Homo sapiens: one gene and its partners. The protein of the gene in region 1 interacts with the protein of each later gene in a pairwise test. Each region holds a gene or a part of one and is shown on either strand. Other genes may lie near its edges.

What was found.
Region 2: the proteins of CIPC (region 1) and RABGEF1 interact in binary tests that used the Homo sapiens proteins (3 or more experiments, as listed by UniProt).
Region 3: the proteins of CIPC (region 1) and RORC interact in a two-hybrid assay, tested with the Homo sapiens proteins (one study listed by BioGRID).

The regions. Positions count from the first base shown.
Region 1 is NC_000014.9:77,093,688-77,101,266, forward strand, and holds the start of CIPC (CLOCK-interacting pacemaker), read left to right. Parts: upstream 1-4,570; 5' UTR 4,571-4,674; intron 4,675-7,579.
Region 2 is NC_000007.14:66,792,648-66,799,753, forward strand, and holds part of RABGEF1 (rab5 GDP/GTP exchange factor), read left to right. Parts: intron 1-2,863; coding exon 2,864-2,945; intron 2,946-3,970; exon of another isoform or gene 3,971-4,086; intron 4,087-4,128; coding exon of another isoform or gene 4,129-4,245; intron 4,246-4,726; coding exon 4,727-4,859; intron 4,860-6,675; coding exon 6,676-6,767; intron 6,768-7,106. UniProt on the Homo sapiens protein: Rab effector protein acting as linker between gamma-adaptin, RAB4A or RAB5A. Involved in endocytic membrane fusion and membrane trafficking of recycling endosomes. Stimulates nucleotide exchange on RAB5A. Can act as a ubiquitin ligase.
Region 3 is NC_000001.11:151,814,803-151,821,908, reverse strand, and holds part of RORC (nuclear receptor ROR-gamma), read left to right. Parts: intron 1-4,628; coding exon 4,629-4,714; intron 4,715-5,103; coding exon 5,104-5,245; intron 5,246-6,483; coding exon 6,484-6,996; intron 6,997-7,106. UniProt on the Homo sapiens protein: Nuclear receptor that binds DNA as a monomer to ROR response elements (RORE) containing a single core motif half-site 5'-AGGTCA-3' preceded by a short A-T-rich sequence.

The DNA of each region.
Region 1 (7,579 bases):
TGCCAAATACTTCCCTAAAATATGAGCCAAGAACCAGTCTGGCTGGTGAGGGCCTTGTTACCTGACTGCTAAGGGAAAAAAGGTCATACATCCCACTATCACTGGCCTCTGCCTCTGCCATCTGGCACCTGTAGATCCCCCTGCCCACACAGGCTGGAGCCCCTCTCTTCTCTCACTGACCCATGAGACACACTTACCACTCCATCAAATCCTATTTAAAGACTTATGAAGTGATCAGCACCAATAATGCTAGATGCTAGATTCAAACTACAGGATAACTATTTTACAGACGGCCAAACTGAGGTTCAGGAAAATGAAATCAATGGTTCCCAAACACCAGTCCAAGAACTGTTGCCAGTCCTTGTGGTGATGTTTTCACCAGTCTTCAGCCAAACTGGAAAAATAAGACTAAAAGCTTTAAGTTTTTCATACACCCGAAATTATTCTATTTTTAAATTGTGAGGTTATGTCCTATCTTCCCTTCTGTGTATACGGAAAAGATATCAAAATGACCCTTCTTTTGTAAAATGATATTGATAGGAGCTGGAATTTGAAACTAGATCACTGACTTTCACCGTCTCCTATTACACTATTTTAATTACTTCTAAATTTTTTTTTTTTTTTTTTTTGAGACGGAGTCTCGCTCTGTCACCCAGGCTGGAGTGCAGTGGCACAATTTCAGCTCACTGCAGCCTCCGCCTCCTGGATTCAAGCAATTCTCCTGCCTCAGCCCCCTGAGTGGCTGGGATTAAAGGCGCATGCCACCATGCCCAGCTAATTTTTGTATTTTCAGTAGAGACGGGGTTTCACCACGTTGGCCAGGCTGGTCTTGAACTCCTGACCTAGTGATCTGCCCGCCTTGGCCTCCCAAAGTGCTGGGATTACAGGTGTGAGCCACTGCGCCTGGCCCACTTTTAAATATTTTTAAATGACTTTAATTTTAAATTCAACAATTATTAAACAATCGTTTATAAATATTTTAAATTGTATAACATAATACACTTAAAATATCTTCAAATAAAACTCGGCCCATGGCTGACTCTTCATGGTATCCTAGGCAGGGTTAAAAACTCAAATCCTCACACGGATAGGCAGGTTACAATTTCAAGAAGTAGATGGGAAAAAAAAAGAAACATTCGCAAGTCCCTAAATGTAGGATTTAAGGGCGCATGTCTCCCCCTGCTGGTTGTGGTGGTAGGAAACCGAACCTAGACCACAATGGTACTGGGGAGAACTTGAATTGGAAAGGACCCTACAGCAAGAAGAATAGGTGCTTCAGAACCCACTATCCATCACAGGGTCCTTACCCCATCCATCATAGGGTCCTTACTCCAACCAAGAGTAAAGAGAGTAAAGTGAGTGAAGGTTAAAGAATTCGTGGCACCAGTAAACTATCAATAGATGCTGATTTACAAATCTTGGTAAATTAATAGGAAAGGAAGAAAAACGTTTACGGTGGTTTAGCTACATAAAAATATTCACTATCAATCTTCATGAATTGCTTATTCTGTATATCTAATTATATAGAATCATAGCATAAAATAATCATAAAAATTATGCCTATCATTAGTCTTGATTCATTTGGTTCCATTACAATACTTGTCTGAAGCTTAAGTTATTGGTACAGCATGGCTGTCTGCTCAAGATGTAGGTAAAGTCAAGGAAGTTTGGTTTATTTGCCCCTTCGGAGGACTAAGAGGGCCTCATGCTTTCGCATATTTCACTGATTCTTTTTTGCTTGGTATGCATTATCCCCTCACCTGCTTCCATTATTGCAAACCCAACTTTCAAGCTGTCTTTAAAGCTTTACCTGCTGGTCTCTTTCTACTCCAACAACCGAAAAAGAAAGTTTTTTTTTTCTCCCTTAATGTTATTGTTTTGTTCAGAATCTTTTGGTAGTTATCCCATTCTCTTTCATATTGCTTATTACATCATGTCTTATTTCCCATATCAGATTGTAAGTTATTTGAAGGCAGACTTTTATTCTTTTTTTTTTTGAATTTTATTTTTGTTTTGTTTTTTATTTAAGTTCAGGGATACGTGTGCAGATTCGTTACATAGGTAAACTTGTGTCATGGCGGTTTGTTGTACAGATGATTTCGTTACCCAGGTATTAAGCCTAGTATCCATGCTGCTGTTTTTTAAATTTTTTATTTCCATAGGTTTTTGGGGAACAGGTGGCATTTTGGTTATATGAGTAAGTTCTTAAGCGGTGATTTGTGAGATTTTGGTGAACCCATCACCTGAGCAGTATACACTGCACCCAATTTGTAGTCTTTTATCCCTCACCCCCTTCCCACCCTTTCCCCTTGAGTCCCCAAAGTCCACTGTATCATCCTTATGCCTTTACATCCTCATAGCTTAACTCCCACTTATGAGTGAGAACATACGATGTTTGGGTTTCTATTCCTTAGTTACTTCACTTAGAATATAAGTCTCCAATCTCATCCAGGTTGCTGCAAATGCCATTAATTCATTCCTCTCATAGTTTATTTATTTGCCCCTTCGGAAAACTAAGATAGGACCACACCTCATGCTTTTGCTTATTTCATTGATTCTTTTTTTGCTTTGTGTGCGTCGTACTCTCACCCACTTCCATTACTGCAAATCCAACTTTTAGCTATCCTTAAAGATTTACCTACTGATCTCTTCCTACTCCAACAACCAAAAAAAAACAAAGTTTTTTTTTCTCCCTTTATTTTATTAATTAGGTTTTGTTCACAATCTTCTGGTACTTATCCCATTCTCTTTCATATTATTTATTACAGCGCGTCTTATTTCCCATATCAGATTTTAAGTTATCTGAAGGCAGATTGTTTTATTCCACTTCAAAAGAAGGCAATATATTAATAGCTTCATGGATAAAAGCCACGGTTTTCGTTTGTTTGTTTTGGTGAGACGGAGATTTGTTGCCCAGGCTGGAGTGCAATGGCACGATCTCGGCTCACCGCATCCTCCGCCTCCCAGGTTCAAGCGATTATCCTGCCTCAGCCTCCCGAGGATTACAGGCATGTGCCACCACGCCCAGCTAATTTTGTATTTTTAGTAGAGACGGGGTTTCACCGTGTTGCCCAGGCTGATCTTGAACTCCTGACCTCAGGTGATCCGCCCGCCTCGGCCTCCCAAAGTGCTGGGATTACAGGCGTCAGCCACTGTGCCTGGCCAAAGCCATGGGTTTTTAGTTGAGTCCTAATGGGCAAAAACGCCACACAACTGGAAAAAAATACCACCTGCGTCATAAACTTGTAAGGAATCATAAAAGGATGCATATAAAGCGGCCCGGCTCCTAATTACTTGGTAATTGTTAACTATTGCTTTCACTCTGTCCCCAAAACAAAAGCCTTACATGGTGTAGGCATATTACTTGTTGGTAAAGCTGACTACTAACAAGTACACCCATACCCAGTAATACATTAGAATTACCTGTGTCTAGAGGACTAACGTGATTAACCACGACCTAGCAGCACTTACAAAGGCCTGGATGACCAGTATAAAACAATTCCCCACTATCTAAATCAGCACTGTCCAATATAACTTTCTGCGATGCTGGGAATGGGCTATATATAATCTGCACTGTCCAATAAAGAGGTCACTGAGCTCCTGAAATGTGGCTAGTACAACTGAGAAACTTATCCAGTCGTTAGTGACCATCTTACTGGACAGCTCAGCTCTTGAATCTGCCTCGACCCGTCAACTCTTTAAACTCGCCCATGTCCTCTTTTTCACTAGCGAAATAATTCTTTTTCTAAGTAACCTTCACTGATTCAAGGCATCAGAACGTCAACTGATCCCAAGCCCTTTTTTTCTTTAGCTGTTACACACGTGTGTTCACCGTGAACCTTCACCAAGAAACAGCATCCATATAAAACCCATAGCACATGACAAAGTCAGTCAAACATCAAAGGTCATGAAATCATCTACTTAAAATAACTCATCGCGCCTCGACCTCGTGAAGCACGGTCTCGAGGGTGGACGGGAACAAAAAACAAACAGGGCGACAGGCGTAGAGAAAATGCGAGGAGCACGCGGGGAGGTCTGGCACCCCTGTCACGGCGACTCCAGGCTGAGGCCGCCCGCACGCCCGCTCTCCCACGCCGGGCACTGTCGCTCCCGGCACGCGCACAGGCCGGACACGACTCGCCCCGGCCCCCACCCCCAACGGCGGCACGGCGGCACGGCGGCACGCACCAAGACAGTGCGAGAGTCGCTCCTCTCTCTGTATCGACTCCAAGCCGGCCCCACCCCCGGCTCCTCTGAACCCCGCCTGGAAACCTTGCCCAAGCCGCTCATTGCTCAAGGCCCCCGTACAAAATGGCGGCGAGGCCTGAGGAACCAACCATAGAGACGCCCGCCGGCCGCGGACAGAGCGTAGGCCTCTGAGCGCTGGCCCCGCCCCGCGCCGGCCTGGTCTTCCGGCGGGGGCGGGGAAAGGGCGCATTTCCAAGGGCCCTTCTAGGAGAACAGCGTGCGGTCTCCATGGTGCCGGGTCATCCGAGTCGGGTCACGTGGCTGGCGAAAGCCGTCGCGGAGGCGTGGGGAGGAGAAATGGGCGGGAGGCTGTGGGGATAGCGAGACACCCAGCGACGACGAGGTTGTCATGGTGCCGCGGGGCCGTGCTCGCGCATGCGCCACCTGACCCACAGGCCGGTCGTGGAGCTGCGACCCCGGCCCTAGGTGAGAAAGGGAGGGCTCGGTCCGGGAGGAGGGGAGCAGGGATGACGGCGGGAGAGGGATTGGGCGAGGAGCGTGGGGAAAGGAGGTGGAAGTAGGGGAGAGAGGAAGAGGAGCGAGTAGGCAAGAGGGGCAAACCGGGACTTTCGGAGGACGGAGAGCCAAATGGTGGGAGCAGGGCTTTGGTTTGCTGTGAGGGGCGTGGGAGAGGGAATCGCGGGTGAGGAGGGGGCTGCGTGTGGGGAGGAGGCTTGTGTGAGGGGCAGGTGGGCCCTGGTCTAGCCCTGGGCGCAACCGCCAGCCGGCTGGGCGGGGAGAGAGCTTGGAGTCCAGCCCGGCTGGGAGCTGAGGGCCAAGCAATGGGCAGGTGAGTGGGCGCCAGAACTAGTAACTGGGCGAGGGTCCTGGGCTTCCGGTTTGAGGTCGGGGGTGGTACCCTGTTCTGGCTCCAGGGCACAGGTGTGCTGCCTTTTCCAGAGACCTGCCGTCACCCTCGTTGCTGGTTGTTTCCCCTGAGTGGCCAGCTTGCCAGGCTTGGTGTCGGGGGTAGTGTTTCTGGGGAGAAGGTGGGCAGTGCCAAGTAAGGAGTTAAGTGGTTAGTGGGTGGGTTCGGGGGAGCTCTGATCCCGGCCCAGGTCACAGGCTGGAGCTAGGCTCCCTGTTATTGCTCAAGTCCTGGCAGTATGCATTGCCTGGGCGTTTGCCCTGGAAGGCTGGTGGTATGCCAGTCACAGCACAGTACTAGGGTCTGCCCAGTTTTGCCCTGCTGAGCTGGCAGGCTGGTGGATGCCTGGAGGGTGCACATGCTGCCTGGCACAGATGCAACGTGGGCTGGTGCGAATGGGTAGGTGGGCACTGTTACTGTGAACTAATTGCAGCAGGGGATCGGAGAAAGTTCTCTAAGCTCATCTCCCCTTTGAAAGGTGAAAATAGAGCCAAACTGGTCTAAAACATAGGAAATTGTATGGAATTGGGGTTCAGGATCTTTGACACGAATTTTCAGCCAAGTTGGAGAAATGGAATGAATGTGGAAGGGAAGATGAATATTAGACATTTAGGTAGACAGGGTTTTTCCACTGTTAAGATACCCAGACATTCTCCCAGAATGGTATCCCTGAATATGCAGGCCAAAAGAAAATGACTTCGGAGAAAAGCTAGTAATGTATTTATAATTCTAACGGGGATTACTCAAGGTTTTCTTTCTGTGACCTTATCACTTTATTGTATTTAAGCCTCTGGTTGGGCTTTTACCTCACACTTCTGTCCAGGCACACATGTTATACACGTGACACATTTTAAAGGGAACTTGAGCTTCCAGGAATGTTGCCAAGTGTCTATAAAAGGAGAGATCTGAAAGCAGCATTTCAGATCCTTTTCTTGTAACCCTGGATCTCCTTTTTAATCATAAGGACAAATCTTCACAAAGATTGTTTGTGGATTAGATCAACCCTTAATTTGGATGGTGGATTTGTCCCTGACGTTTCAACTTAGAATAAGGGGTAGATCAAATATCTGTTTCCTGCAGGGGACCAGACGTGGAGGTTAGATCTTAAGGTGACCGTGGTGTTTGGAAATGCAGAATCTTGACCTTCAAGCTGTTCAGGTATTTCTGTGACTGCTAAGCTACTAGAGCTGTCAGAGACTCAGCAGGTCAGAGATTTGTTGGAATTTATTACTCTATTGAATGCCTCATGTTAATTGTTGGGGGCTGAGGTTGCAAAGATGAAAAAAACAACTCGAGGTTGAGGAGACAAATAATTAGACTAATGTCAGAAGTGCAAAAAGAGTAGTAAGAGCTAAATGCTTTGGAGCACTTGCTAGGATTTTGAATTTTGTCCCCTTATATAAACTTATATATTTATTGATTCACTTTCTTTCTTTCTTTTTTTTTTTTTTTTTTTGAGACGGAGTCTCACTCTGTCACCCAGGCTGGAGTGCAGAGGCACAATTTCGGCTTACTACAATCTCTGCCTCCCAGGTTCAAGCTATTCTCGTGCCTCAGCCTCTTGAGAAGCTGGGATTACAGGCACACATCCCCAAGCCCAGCTAATTTTTGTGTTTTTAGTAGAGACAGGGTTTCACCATATTGGCCAGGCTGGTCTCCAACTCCTGACCTCAGGTGATCTGCCCGCCTGTGCCTCAAAGTGCTGCTGGGATTATAGACGTGAGCCACCTTGCCTGGCTCTGATTCTCTCTTTTCTTTTCTTTTCTCTTCTTTTTTTTTTTTCTTTTGACGGAGTCTCACTCTTCACCCAGGCTGGAGGGCAGTGGCAACATCTCGGCTCACTGCAACTCCACATCCCAGGTTCAAGGGATTCTCCTGCCTCACCCTCCCAAGTAGCTAGGATTACAGATGTGTGCCACCACACCCAGCTAATTTTTGTATTTTTAGTAGAGACAGGGTTTCACCATGTTGGCCAGGCTGGTCTCGAACTCCTGACCTCAGGTGATCCATCCACCTCTGCCTCCCAAAGTGCTGGGATTATAGGTGTGAGCCACCACACCCGGCCTGATTCACTTTCCATTATGAGTTTTAGTGTGTACTATCCTCTCTGGGAAACTTTTGGACAATGTGTTACATATACATGCATAAGAGGCCCAATTAGGGTAAATTCTGACAGTTTTGGAGCCTAAATTAGCCCTTTTAATGCAGAATAAGGTACATGTGTTTGTAAAGCAGCGTGAGTGATTTCCAGTCTATGCCAGGAAGCAGGAAGCAGAAAGAACACAGTGGGTAAGAGCTTAGTAATCCATTTTCAACTCCTAGTCAGTGTGAGCATGTAACTTTATTGTAAACTAATATCTAAGAGGAAAAAAATCAAGCAACTTCCCGAGGTTTTCAGACTTTGCCTTGCAAATTTTGGGGTTGAGAGCACCAGTAGTAAGTGAGGCTTTATGTGGTGCTATG
Region 2 (7,106 bases), on another chromosome or scaffold:
AAAAGATGTTGCAAAACAAAGGCAGTCATTGCCTTTGCTCACAGATAGGTAGAAAGAGATCTATGGAGAATTGTCTTCAGCATCTTATAAAGGGAGGAATGGTAATAAATGGCCACATTTATTCATTCAACCCATACTGAGCACTAACCCTGTGCCTGGCCTTGTTCTAGGCATGAGGATATGGTGGTGAACAGTGCCCTTGTGGAGCTAACATTTTAGTTGGGGAAATGGACAATAAGCAGATCTGTAACATAGTGTTAAGTCCTACAAGAATGGAAAGCAGGATGAGAGACAGTGGCAGGGGTGAGTTCTTTTACATTATGAAAGCAATACTGTACTGGAGCATAAACTGCAGTAGAAATAGAAAAGGAGTTTTCGGCATTGTATTGTAAAATTACAGGGGTTGTGCTGGGCTGGGGGAGGAGAATATGATCCCTTGACACCAGTAAGACAGGCCTCTCGGGTCTCTAAAAGGAGCTCAGAGAGTTTCTAGTTGGAAGCGAGCACTACAGGTTGAGTATCCCTTATCCGAGAGCCTTGGGACCAGAAGTGTTTCAGATTTTGGGGTTTTCCCAGATTTTGGAATATTTACACATATATAAGATAACTTGGGACTGGGACCCAAGTCCAAACACAGAATTCATTTGTTGAATATATGCCTTACATACATAGCCTGAAGGTAATTTTATACCACATTTTAAGCAGTTTTGTGCATGTAACAGTTTTGGCTGCTTTTTGACTCTAGCCCATCATCACATGAGGCCAGGTGTGGAATTTCCCACTTGTGGTGTCATGTCGACACTGACAAATTTGGGATTTTTGAGCATTTCAGATTTTTTATTTTTGGGTTAGGAATGCTCAAATCTGTAGTAATAATCACAAGAATGAATATAGTTTCTTCTAAGTTAAGTGCTAAAATTTGGTGCAAATGAAAGGTGTAAAACCATGTGTAAACTACCTAAAAAGATTGAATGGATAAGCTTTTGCATAAAATACTTGAAGTAGAAGGATAGATTTGAGCACTGCAGTGTGTGCATGTATATGGGTAACTAGTTGACAGTAACAAGGGCTGCAGTCAAGGTGATCACAAAGTGCCATGAGTGCTTGGCCATTTTTACTGAGGGAATGAGGTGACTGCTCCTGACCCCAAGTGTCCTGCCATCCTTTTAGAGTTAAGCCAGATGGTCAGACTGCTGTGGGCTTCCACAGGATGTATCGGCCCTTGGCGTGTGAGGTCAGTGGCCTGTGTAGATGAAGTCTGTGACAGCCCGTCCTGGGGGTTTGTTCTCGGCCTTATTCATGTTCTTCTACTGTGACATCCTTATGAGAACCGTTGGGAGAAATTTTTGATTTTGGTGTCAGAATTTCACCCGAATAATTTGTTTGCTTTCATCTTTTGAACCCTGAATTACATAACTGTTTTCATCCTAGTGATGGTTGCTAAAAAATTTAGTTAGAGACAGATGTATGGGCTGACTCTTGACTAATTTAGACATCTTCCAGGAAAACATTTCTGTCTTGTCATCTGTGGCTCTGCTTTAGGTCTCTCTCCATGTTTAATTTTTTTTTTTTTTTTTTTTTTTTTACTTATTATTGTTAAAAAAATTTTTTAATTTCTTTCTTTCTCTTTCTTTCCTTTCTCTCCTTTCTCTCCCCTTTCTTTCTTTCCTCTTCTCTTTTCTTTTCTTTCTTGAGATGGGGTCTCACTATGTTGCCCAGGCTGGCCTCAAACTCCTAGGCTCAATCGATCCTCTAGCCTCAACCTCCCAGAGCACTGGGATTACAGTTATTTGTTATTCTTTTTATTTTCTAGTCTCTTGTGCTGAACTGCATTTATCTTTTAAATAGCCTTTAAATATTCTTTGGCAGAAAGTGAGAAACAAATACATATATTACACCTATAAAATCAGTAAAACCAAATAAAAATTATCAAGCCCAATGTTGTAAGGGCCATAGGGAAGTAAGTGCATACACGTGGTTAATGACAGTGTGCACTGAGTTTCTGAGGAGTGTGGCTAGCAATAGATACTTAGTGCTATAACATTGTTTATTCATATTAAGCGGTTAATGCCACTTTTGGAAATGTATGACAGAGAACCGAAAAGAAGATAGTCCTTACAAAATTATTTATACCTACAGTGCACAACAGTGAAAGAGGGGGAGCAACTCAAATGCACAGTGGTAGAGGAGAGTCGAAGAAGTCAGTTAATATAATGCAGTGTTATAAAGCCACCAGAAATGATTCAGTGGATTAGATAAATAGAAATGTACATAAAATATGTAAATTATCAAAACATGCATTAAATCTATTTAAGAATACGTAGATTTAGCAAAAAGAATGAGATGGTCATGGTGAGACCGCTAGGTGGGAAGGGGTCCCCGGAAAAACTCCAGCCAGCCTGCCCACCGGGGTGGAGTTTTGGGAAGTTTGCACCATTTGTAGCAGGGAGGAGCCTGGCCCCTCTTCTTTCTGTGTGGAGCCCAGGATTCTAGCTGCTGGCAGGAAGCACTCTAGCAGGGACTCTGGCCTTGTGAGTGTCTCGGATTCCCCCTTTTCTTCCTTTTCACCTAATAAAACCCTGTCTTACCCACCATTCAAACCGCCTGCGAGCCTAAATTTTTGTGGCTGTGAGACGGACAAGGATCCCGTCTTTAGCTGAACTAAGGAAAAGTCCGGCAACAATGGATATTGGAAATAATATTAATGGATAGGTTTTACTCTCCTGCAGGATTAATATAACCTGTGAGTACTTTTAGGCTTACTACCAGTACAAGGAATGGCTTTTGGAAAGTTCTTAGAATGTAGAGCTGTGCTTCTGCACTTTGTTCAGCTACAAGCAGCCTCTTTGTCTCTCTGTTTCAGGATCTAAGCATTGAAGAACAGTCAGAGTGTGCTCAGGATTTCTACCACAATGTGGCCGAAAGGATGCAAACTCGTGGGAAAGGTAACACTGTTAGCCATTGAGAGATTGCGGGTATTGCACAGGGATGACTGCTCAGTCTCTTAGCAATTTCTTTCTTTCTCTGATGGTCTGGCTGGTTTGTAGACTTCATCCTGTAACCTCATGGACATTCTGGGAACTGGTCTTATACTTAGCAGTGCCTTTGAACTGTACCATGCGTATCTTTCCAGGAGCAATTGGATAATTTATTGAGTAACATTTAATAACTCCATTGGGGCAGGGCTGGAGCTGACGAAAACATCTTAGGGCCTGGCTCAGTAGCTCATGCCTGTAATCCCAGCACTTTGGGAGGCTAAAGCAGGCGGATCACGTTAGGCCAGGAGTTCGAGACCAGCCTGGCCAACATGGTGAAACCCCGCCTCTATTAAAAATACAAAAAGTAGCCGGGTGTTGTGGTGCACCTCTTATCCCAGCTACTCGGGAGGCCGAGGCACAAGAATTGCTTGAACCCGGAAGGCGGAGGTTGCAGTGAGCTGAGACTGTGCCACTGCACTCCAGCCTGGGCAACAGATCGAGACTCTGTCTTCAAAAAAGAGAGAGAGAAAGAGAAAAACTTATTGGAAGGCTTTGCTAAATGAATTTTCCATCTTGGAATCACCATTTTGGTGAGTTATTGTATTAATAGTTTAAAAAAAAAAGAGCTTCAAGTTTTTAGGGATTCTTTATGGATTCAACCTTCACTGATACTAGACTTTAGGATATACTTAGCACATGTGTGTGTCAGAGAAATCTCCATTTGTATACCTCAGAGAGCTCTACGATGTTATGGTAAACCTCAGAAAAATGAAAGGATAAGTTTCATCAGCATTCATCAGTCTTGGGAGTTGCAAATGCCTTTGTAATGTAGGACAGGGAGTGACCTTGCTGAAGTCTCCCCATTTGGCAGGGTGTACACTGTTAGGTCCTGTCAGACAACTTCAGTTAGAACTGAGGTTGCTGTGGAAGGCAGCCCAACAGTTGGAAGAAGATTTTTTTGTTTGTTTGTTTGTTTGTTTTTGTCGAGACAGAATATCACTCTGTCGTCCAAGCTGGAGTACAGTGGTGTGACCTCGGCTCACTGCAACTCTGCCTCCCAGGTTCAAGTGATTCTCCTGTCTCAGCCCCCGAGTGGCTGGGATTACAGGTGCGTGCCACCACACCCAGCTAATTTTTGTATTTTTATTAGAGAGGAGATTTCACCATGTTGGCCAGGCTGGTCTTGAACTCCTGACCTCAGGCGATCCACCTGCCTCAGCCTCCCAAAGTGCTGGGAATACAGGAGTAGAGCCACCGCACCCAGCTGGTAAGTTTTTTTTTTAAGCGTATTTTTAAATATAACATTCTTATACTTTTGTTCTGAGTGTGTTTAATTTATTTCTAGTAAATTAGTTTTTTGCTGTGTAGACAGTGCTATGAAAATATACTCTTGGCCGGGCATTCTGGCTCACACCTATAAACCTAGTACTTTGGGAGGCTGAGGCAGGTAGATTGCTTGAGCCCAGGAGTTCGAGACCAGCCTGGGCAACATGGTAAAACCCCATCTCCACAGAAAAAACCTACAAAAATTATTCAGGCATGGTGGCGTGTGCCTGTGATCCCAGCTACTTGGGAGGCTGAGGTAGGAGAATGGCTCGAGCCCAGGAGGTGGAGGTTTCAGTGAGCCAAGGTCATGCTGCTGCACTCCAACCTGGGCGACAGAGCCAGACTCTTTGTTTGCAAAAAAAAAAAAAAAGAGAGAGAAAAAATATATATATCTTGATCTTTTCTCTGTCTGGTTATTTCAGTGCCTCCAGAAAGAGTCGAGAAGATAATGGATCAGATTGAAAAGTACATCATGACTCGTCTCTATAAATATGTATTCTGTCCAGAAACTACTGATGATGAGAAGAAAGATCTTGCCATTCAAAAGAGAATCAGGTAGTTGCTTATTTTGTTTTGCTTTGTAGTTACTACCTTCTAATGGAAGAACACACTGGGGGGAAAATAATGCACCTGTGTTTCAAACCTTAAGGGAAAGCAATAGCTCATGTTCCTGCTTCCTTAGAGTGGAAGCAGCTCTGTTGTGTAAGAAAGACGAGGAATGTGGTGACCTCACCTATCCATCTCCCTCAAGGCAGCTTTTGGTAAGAGTTGTGTTTGGTGTTTGAGATTGTTTTCAATCCCTGAAATCTCCAAGGAATAGGGGGACTGTGTTCTTGGTCCATTACCATCTCCTCAAGTGGGAAGCTGTGAATATCGGTATCAAGGCAGGGGATGTCGGCTGGGCCCGGTGGCTCATACCTGTAATCCCAGCACTTTGGGAGGATCACTTGAGGCCAGGAGTTCAAGAGTAGCCCAGGCAACGTGGTAAAACCCCGTCTCTACTAAAAATACAAAAATTAGCCAGGCATGGTGGCGCACGCCTGTGATCCCAGCTACTTGGGAGGCTAAGGCACGAGAATGGCTTGAATCCAGGTGGCAGAGGTTGCAGTGAGCTGAGATCATGCTACCACACTCCAGCCTGGGCAACAGAGCAAGACTCCTTCTCAAAAAAATAACAAGTCAGTAGATGTCCTCTTTCCTCATTCCTCCCAGGGGTGTGCATTTTTCAGCATTCCCTAGTCACATCTTTCACTGGCATTGGATTGATGACATTTCCCACAGCACCCAGTCTTCCAGGCTCACTGGGGTGAGCCCCAGCACTGTGTACTCCAGTTGCGGTGGACACTGAGGAAGAGACCACCCAAGTGTGGGAACAGGGCCAAGGCTGAGCTGATGAGGTGTTTTAAGGGGAGAAGGGACTCGGAGTCCCAGGTTCCAGACAAGGGGCTGGTACTTGCTAGATCTGTATTGGAAGTTTCATAGCTGAAGTGAGGAGTTGATACTGGGCAGGCTGAAGATGTGGAGCCCAAGGTCAGGAGCCAGAAGTAACTAGAGGGGCCCTGGACCAAGATGCAGAACAGAAGCAGTAACCAAGCAAGAGGGCAGGCCTGCTGCAGGGTAGTTGGAGTGCAGTTAGGGTGGGACCAGGAAACACACAGTGATTCAGGCATGGTGGTCCTGCCCGTGGCCTCCTATACAAGCTCCAGTGTGCCTCAGAAGTTGAGGGTTGAGGCCAGGTGTGGTGGCTCGCACCTGTAATCCCAGCACTTTGGGAGGCCAAGGCAGGCAGATCACCTGAGGTCAGGAGTTTGAGACCAGCCTGGCCAGCAGGGTGAAACCCTGTCTCGTAAAAGTACAGAAATTAGCTGGGCATGGAGGTGGGCGCCTGTAGTCCCGGCTGCTTGGGAGCCTGAGGCAGGAGAATTGCTTGAACCCAGGATGCAGAGGCTGCAGTGAGCCAAGATTGGCACTCCAGCCTGGGCAAGAGTGAGACTCCATCTCAAAAAAGAAAGAAGTTGAGGACTGAGTGTAAAAGGACATTAACGCAGTAGGCAGCGAGGACAGGCAGCAGCCAATTCTCAAATGGTCACTTTCAGATACTGAGTGCATTTCAGTCTTGGTAGCACTGCGTAATGTCATTTCAGTCAGCAAGATGGCCTTCCATTCTTGTGATAAATGCAGAAGTCTCATTTTAGGATCCTAGCTGCTTCATCACGTCATTAGAGCTCGTAGTACTTGCAGGGGTGATGTGTGTGGGCCTGGGATTGAGTGGTCAGTGATGCCTCAGGCTTTCCCTAAACTGAAGGAGGTGACAAGACAAATGGCCACAGTTTATCCTTGGAGCTCTTGTTTACTGTCTCTCTCTCTTTAGAGCCCTGCGCTGGGTTACGCCTCAGATGCTGTGTGTCCCTGTTAATGAAGACATCCCAGAAGTGTCTGATATGGTGGTGAAGGCGATCACAGGTCAGTGAAACCAAGAGCCTTTTTATTGGGATGTTTTCCCCTTAAAGTTAACATTTTACTGTAATATTCATCTATACATTTGTAAAATGCAGATTGTCGAAGGTACATTGGAATGTAGTAAAAGTGATTTGTAAGATTGTTTTATGAATTTGATGGCATTCAGAAGAGCAGGTTCTCTTTTACCCCTTTATTTTCAGGGATTATGGTCTCGTTTCTTGGGCATTAAACTAAACTAAGGTCAAATGCAGATAGAATAAATTTTTTTTCTTTTTTTTGTACTTCTTTTTTTATTTAGTTTTTATTCAGCTGACTGTTCCATGATAGAATAAATTTCTTAGG
Region 3 (7,106 bases), on another chromosome or scaffold:
GAGGAAGAGTTGGGACAGAGGGAATAATATCTCTTGGGATCTTTATACAAACAGGAGTCCTGGCTTTAGTTCTGTGGGTTTCCTCTGTGAATTCTGTTCCTAGACCACCACAATCACCTCACACTTTTACCCCTACAGCCAAATAACCATGTCCTCTACCCAGGTCTCCGGTGTGCATTTGGGCGTCTTATCCTCATAAAGTATATAGCTTAAGGCTTGAGGGCACTGGCTGCAGAATTACAGAGATCTAGGTTCAAATGCCAGATCTGCCACTTCTGGCTGTGTGACCTTAGTCAAGCTGTTTATTCTCTCTAGGCCTCAGTTTTCTCATCTGTAAGATGAGGATGATACTAGCAGGGCCTATTTCACAGGGTGGTTGTGATCATTGAATGAAAATGCATGTAAAGCCTGGCACAGAGTAAGAATTCAGCCAATGCTTATGTCTATCATTATCCTTTCTCCTTAATCAGTATCCACTGGAGAAAAAGGAGAGAGAAAGAGGAGAGGAAAAGGCCCAGCTCTAGATTGACGAGGCACCAGGAGGAGATGAGGACCCCGGGGTTTCTCTGTGTGAACCCATTCTCTACCATGATGGTGGGGGGGTGGTGGTTCTGGGGTTTGAGAGGAGAGATCCCCCTGGGTTGCAGCCCCTCCCCTGCTCCTACCACTTCCTCTCTGTGGCATAGGGCACCTGGACAGGGCCCAGGGTTGGCTTCCTAAGCTGGCACAGGGCCAGGCTCTGGAAGTACTCAAAGCACTATCATTGAATCTCACAGCTGTGAGAGGCTCGATTAGAGGAGGATGGAGGACTTTGCCTCTACCGTATTTCCCCTCATAGGAGGAGCTACTAGGATGCTCCTGGGGGTACTTCAGTCTCTAAAGCAATTCAGAGGAGATTCAGTTTCTTTTTCTAGTATTGTCTCAGAATGAAGTCTTAGAGGTCACACTGGATGGCAGAAAAGATGCAAGAATGAGCTCAGGAAAAGATCGCCAACCCCAGCCCCACTCCCTGGAAGGAGCAGCCTGGCAAAAAGGCAGGAATAGGGACTAAGTTCTTGCTACTCAAAGTATAAGCTGAAGACCAGTAAGCTTAGGCACCAACTAAGAGCTGACCAAAGTGCAGAATCTTGAGTCCCACCTCAGATCCCCAGGTAATCTTGTTTGAGATGCAGAAAGCCATAGTCATTCAGTCATTAGATGACTTAAGGAGCTGGCGGGTGCATTTGGGCATTTGTCTCTCCTTTTGGAAGATGTGGAATTGGAGTTTTCTTTTGGAGAAAGCTCTCTCTCAGGAGAGAGCTACAGTGAGAGAGCTGCAGGTGAGATGCAAAGATCTTTCCAAGACAGCAGGCGAGGGTAGAGTTAGGGCTGCCATGGGAGCAGTGGTGCAGGGGCTGGTTCGAGGTTCCTGACCTTTGCTTGGCTCTAGTTCCTGGCACTGGCAGGCCCTTAGATGGTAAGTTCCTGGCAGGCCTGGCTCCAGGGCAACAGTTTGAGTAATCCTGTGATTACTCAGCTCCTTCTCCCCAATCTGAGTTCCCACCACCTGCTGCTTCAGGGACGTGTCTCCCAGGGGTAGCTTTTGAAGGTGAGTTATCATCAGAGGTGTTTTCAGCTCCTCTCACCAACCCCCAAGTCTACCAGCCCCCTTCCCGTTCTCCCCCACCCCTTCTCTACAAGTAACACACACCCTCATGTACACAGCACTGGTACTTTCTTTCTGAGGTTTGGGTGGATGGCATTGAAGGGAGTGCAGGTGGCAGGGGAAGGAGGGGGGAGCAGGACTAGAGGGCCTGAAGTGCTGAGGGGGCCATGGGTTGGGCAAAGGCCAGGATACAAGCGTGGATTTTCTGTGTTTCAGTGTTTCCGCAGCCGTCTCTCCATCCCTAGATCTATGTCTCTGTTTTTCCTGGACCCAAACCTCTTGGTCTCTCCAGCTCAGTGAGGCTAGGGGGTCTGACATTCTAGCTCAGAGTCTTTGGCCTTGTGTGTCTGTCTCACTGGGTACTTCTGTCTTGGACTGGGAGGATGGAGGATGGGCTGACCAGGTGGCTGGAGTCCAAGGCTTTGGTGTCGCCCAAACATGGGTATTTGCGAAGGGGGTCCTTGACTGGCCGCATCTTCCTATGAGAAGGTCAAGGTCTTGGTGACACTGTTGTGAGGTTCCTAGGGCCAGGAGAAGCAGTGGGTCAAGCATGGGGCAGGGAGATGTGTCTGGGGTCACCATGTGGTCAGCACACACACGCACGCGGATGTGGCTCTTGGAGAAGGGAAGAGGCAGGGAGGCCTGTGGTTGACTGCTGGGCCAGAGCCCGAGTTCCCACTGCGGCTTGGCCTAATCTCCCTCCCGCTTACTTTTTTGGGTGGCCCACGTTGGTTTCTCCCATCTCTGGTCTTAGGCCACTGAAAAGAGAGATGCCACAGTGTTGGAGGGGGAGGTGTTGGGCAAGAACAGAGTCCACAGGGCCCGAGTGCTCCTCTCAGCCTTGCCAGGCCCACTGGTCTTCTCAGCCTGACCTCTGCTCAGGAGTAACTTGAATACACAGTGCTTTCCATTGGTGATATCATTTCATTACTCTCTGTTACCTACAATCACCCCATGGACAGGCAATAATACTTTTATCCTGATCTTGCTGACAAGAAAACGTAGGTCTAGAGGGAGAATCTAAGTGACTAGAAGTATGGGGGCCCCAACGTTTTCTGCCCCTGTTCCAGACACCCAGTGCCCTCTTATTCTCTCTTCCCCTCCATGTATTAAAATCTGCTCTTAATTTACTGGAAAGAACCTGGAAAACTCACTTACCGCCTGGTCCTGGGGGGACCACAGCTTACAGTGTGAGCACTGGAAGCTTGCTGCTGGGCAGGCACGTGTGGCTGGGGGTTGGGTGAGGAATTGAGTGCTAATGAAGGGATTTCAGATACCCATGTGCCCTGTCCCCGTCAGGGTCAGCTACTGCCTCTGACTCACCTCAAGTCTGGCCTGAGGGATGATGGTTTAAGAATGATGGAAATAATATTTTGGGGAATGGCGGGCAAGCCATGGTCTCCCTGCCCACTTCACATCAACAGGCCCTACATGTGACCAGTGTCCAGGCCAGGGACTGGAGGTGAGATCACAGCAATGTGCATTCGCCCTCCAGAGAGGCTGCCACTTCTTTTGCCCCTTTGGTGGGAGACACGTCATAGATTAAAAGGGGCTTTGGCCCTTCTCTTCACTTTTCTGGCCTGTCCCGCCCCAGGGCTCCCCACTCAGAGGGGAGGCAGCAGGTCAGTGATGGTGGAAAAGAGACCCATGTGCTCTGGGAAATGCTAAAAACACCTACAGTAACCAGGGATCCCAAGCTTTGCCCAGCTACCTTTCAAGGAAGAGCTGGGAGAAGGCCTCCTGTGGTCCCATGAAGCTCAGCAGAGAGTCGTGGGCATTGACAGGAACAGGGCAAAGCAGAGATGAGCTTAGGGCCAGCAGCAAACCACAGGGGTAGGGAAGCAGGTACAGGTTACAGTGAGTTCAGTGGGAGAGAGAACCCGGGGTCCTAGTGCCCCATGAGCAGACACTAACATACAAATATGCACGTGTGGACGCAGGAGCAACCAGATATGTCGTAGGCTCACAAATGACACATACTTTTCTTGCATATGCACACCCACAAGCACACCTTCAAACATGCCCACTGAAATGTGTACCCGAAAAGACAGGTACACAGAACAGCATAATGGAAAGCTCAGGGGAACTGGGATGTAGATCCAGCTCTCAGGCAAACTAGCCTATGACCCTGGCCCAACCGCTTTGCCTCATCTGGCTTAGTCCTTCATCGGTAAATGAAGAGGTTGAATGAGATGGTCTCTAGTCTCAGCCATTTTTAACATTGATGATTCATGTTCACACAAATGGATACAGATGCCTTTGTACAAACATAAGTGTTCACACTCAGACACACGGATGTACACAAAGCCACCCTCTCTCTGCTCTGGGGCCAAGAGCCTAAGAGCCCTGGCTAATTCTTTCCCTAGGCTCTCAGGCATCCAGCAGAGCTGGGGTGTTGAGCCCCCGTTTCCTGGGTTCCTCCCTGCCACCCCCTCACCCTGTCTCTGTATAGCACCTCCCTGAGCCTTCACTGTCTGGCTGGGAAGGACTGGCATCTCTGCCTATCCCCCACCCCTTGTGTACCACATCTTCCTGCTATACCCTACACTTTGCCCATGGGAGCTGAGCCCCAGCGAGGGAGGGAGGCACAGAGGAAGCCCCTTCGGCGGGAAGCAGGTGTTGTGAGGCCGTGAGGAGTCCTATGTCCCAAGGCGGGAGGGAGGCAACTGGAGCTTTTCAACTCGAAGGGCTGAGCAGGTGGCCCCTCTGCAGCTGCTTTCTCTGCCTCCATAGCACTGATACAACTCCCGGCCACCCCTCCACACTCCCCTCCTCTGTGAAACAAACACAGCTTCCTCACACCCTTTGCTGAGAAGCATTTGGCATTTCACTTCCCCTTCCATTTTGCAAGAGGGAAACAGCAAGCTGGAGCTGGTTGGAGAAGTAGTGGAAGCACCAGGTACCTGTATCTGCAGCCCAGGTACATGGTGGTTGAATGCAGAAAAGCCTCCTGGGCTGACCTACTTCTCTTTCTCTCTTCCAGCACAAATTGAAGTGATCCCTTGCAAAATCTGTGGGGACAAGTCGTCTGGGATCCACTACGGGGTTATCACCTGTGAGGGGTGCAAGGTGAGTCATAGGCATGTGTATGCATGCATGTGTGCGTGTGCATACACAAGCGCGCGCGCGCGCACACACACACACACACACAGTGTCTCCTTAGAGATAAACAAGGGGGTTAATGGCCTTTGTTCTGACTCCAGGGATGATCTCCTGGGCAGCCAGGAAAATGCCTGAGTAGCGCCTTCCTGCAGGGCCCTCAACACTGGCAGGGCCCTGTCTTAAGCTGGGGAAATGACTACAGGATAAATTGCAATTACACAAATAGATGGAGGAGAGAGAAAACTGACAGGTCGTGGGATGTAGAAAAGCTGCCAGAGCTTGTGGGCTGGAGGCCTTTGTGAGTGAGCTGGGCCTGACCAGGATAAGCAGTCTTGCCCTCCACCTGCTTTCCCCAGGGCTTCTTCCGCCGGAGCCAGCGCTGTAACGCGGCCTACTCCTGCACCCGTCAGCAGAACTGCCCCATCGACCGCACCAGCCGAAACCGATGCCAGCACTGCCGCCTGCAGAAATGCCTGGCGCTGGGCATGTCCCGAGATGGTGAGGCCAAGTCGACAGCCCCCTGGGGTTTTCCTGGTGTCTCCAGAGGGGCAGCCTGGCCTGCTGAGCTAGACAAGGCTTAACCTGCAAGACGGCCCATCCTCTGGTCTCCTCTCCATTCCTCCCCGTTACAACCCCTTGTCTCCTCCCCTCCAGGGATGGATGGGTCACCCCCATCAAAGTTCTTTGGAGTCCCCAACTTTAGGCTTTGCTAGAACAAACATCCTCTTTCCAAGGTCCCATACCTCTTCATCTCTTCTTACTTGGAACGAATTCTCCTCACTCTGCTGCCCTCTGGCCCAGCTCCCATGCAGCTCTGGCACCTTCCCCTGCTACCCTGTTGTTGTAGTTCTAGCTCTATCTCCTTTTCTAATCCCCCATTCCCATACTTGGACACAGGACTATAGCCAGGAATGGAAACAGAATTGGCCTGAGAACAACCAGAGGGTGGTCGTGGGGGAGGGCTGGTGTTCCTGGTGCCTTATCCACCCTCCTCACCCACCACCTCCTCACCAGTCTCCCTGCACACCTCCACCACCACAGAAGGAGCCTAGGGTGGAGCTGGGGGGGCATGAGGTGATGAGGAGCCAGAAGGAGCCCGTCAGCACTTTTCAGTGCCCAAAATAACAAAGCAAAAGGAAGCACGCAGGGGTGCAAAGGGGCAGGCGGGGCGAGGGGCTGTGCCCCTACACCTGGGAGGGGTGGCGGGGGGAGTAAAAAGGCAGGAAAGAGAGAGCAGAAGAGGATGTTCAGAAACAAGCCGCGGAGCCCGGGTTGGGCTGTGGTGAGTATCTAGGTCACCAGGGAGCCTGCAGGCCTGACCACAGGGAGACCTGTGTTCTCAGCTCTCCTCTTCCTCCGACCCTCCCAAAGAGGCGAGGTGACCCCAATACAGCTTGAGGCCCTCTGCTCGACCACCCCCAGCCCCAAGATCTGGAGGCCAGAATCCCCAGCCTAGACTCATTGCTTGAATTCTGCCATGATTCAAATCTGATTTAGAACTTAGAAGATTTTGCTTAGCAGATTGAAATGGCAGACTGGACAGACCCCAGAAGCAAACAAGAGTGAGAGGTGGACGGGGTCTTGAGCATAAGTTCCCTAAAGGCTAGAGAAGCTGTGCTTGGAGTCAGCCATTCAGAGAGCAGCAAGTTAATCCTTTAATGACCAAATGCCTCCTGACCCTGCCCTGTGCCATGTTCTCCTGCCTCATAAACCCCTGGTCCCTGGACCTCTTTCAGCTGTCAAGTTCGGCCGCATGTCCAAGAAGCAGAGGGACAGCCTGCATGCAGAAGTGCAGAAACAGCTGCAGCAGCGGCAACAGCAGCAACAGGAACCAGTGGTCAAGACCCCTCCAGCAGGGGCCCAAGGAGCAGATACCCTCACCTACACCTTGGGGCTCCCAGACGGGCAGCTGCCCCTGGGCTCCTCGCCTGACCTGCCTGAGGCTTCTGCCTGTCCCCCTGGCCTCCTGAAAGCCTCAGGCTCTGGGCCCTCATATTCCAACAACTTGGCCAAGGCAGGGCTCAATGGGGCCTCATGCCACCTTGAATACAGCCCTGAGCGGGGCAAGGCTGAGGGCAGAGAGAGCTTCTATAGCACAGGCAGCCAGCTGACCCCTGACCGATGTGGACTTCGTTTTGAGGAACACAGGCATCCTGGGCTTGGGGAACTGGGACAGGGCCCAGACAGCTACGGCAGCCCCAGTTTCCGCAGCACACCGGAGGCACCCTATGCCTCCCTGACAGAGATAGGTGAGCAGCTGGGGAGGTGGAGAGGGTGGTAGAGATGAGGGAGGGGTTTCCACCAGTACCCCGTATCAATCAAACATGCGCCTGAGGGAATTGAGGGGTCCAGACGAGGG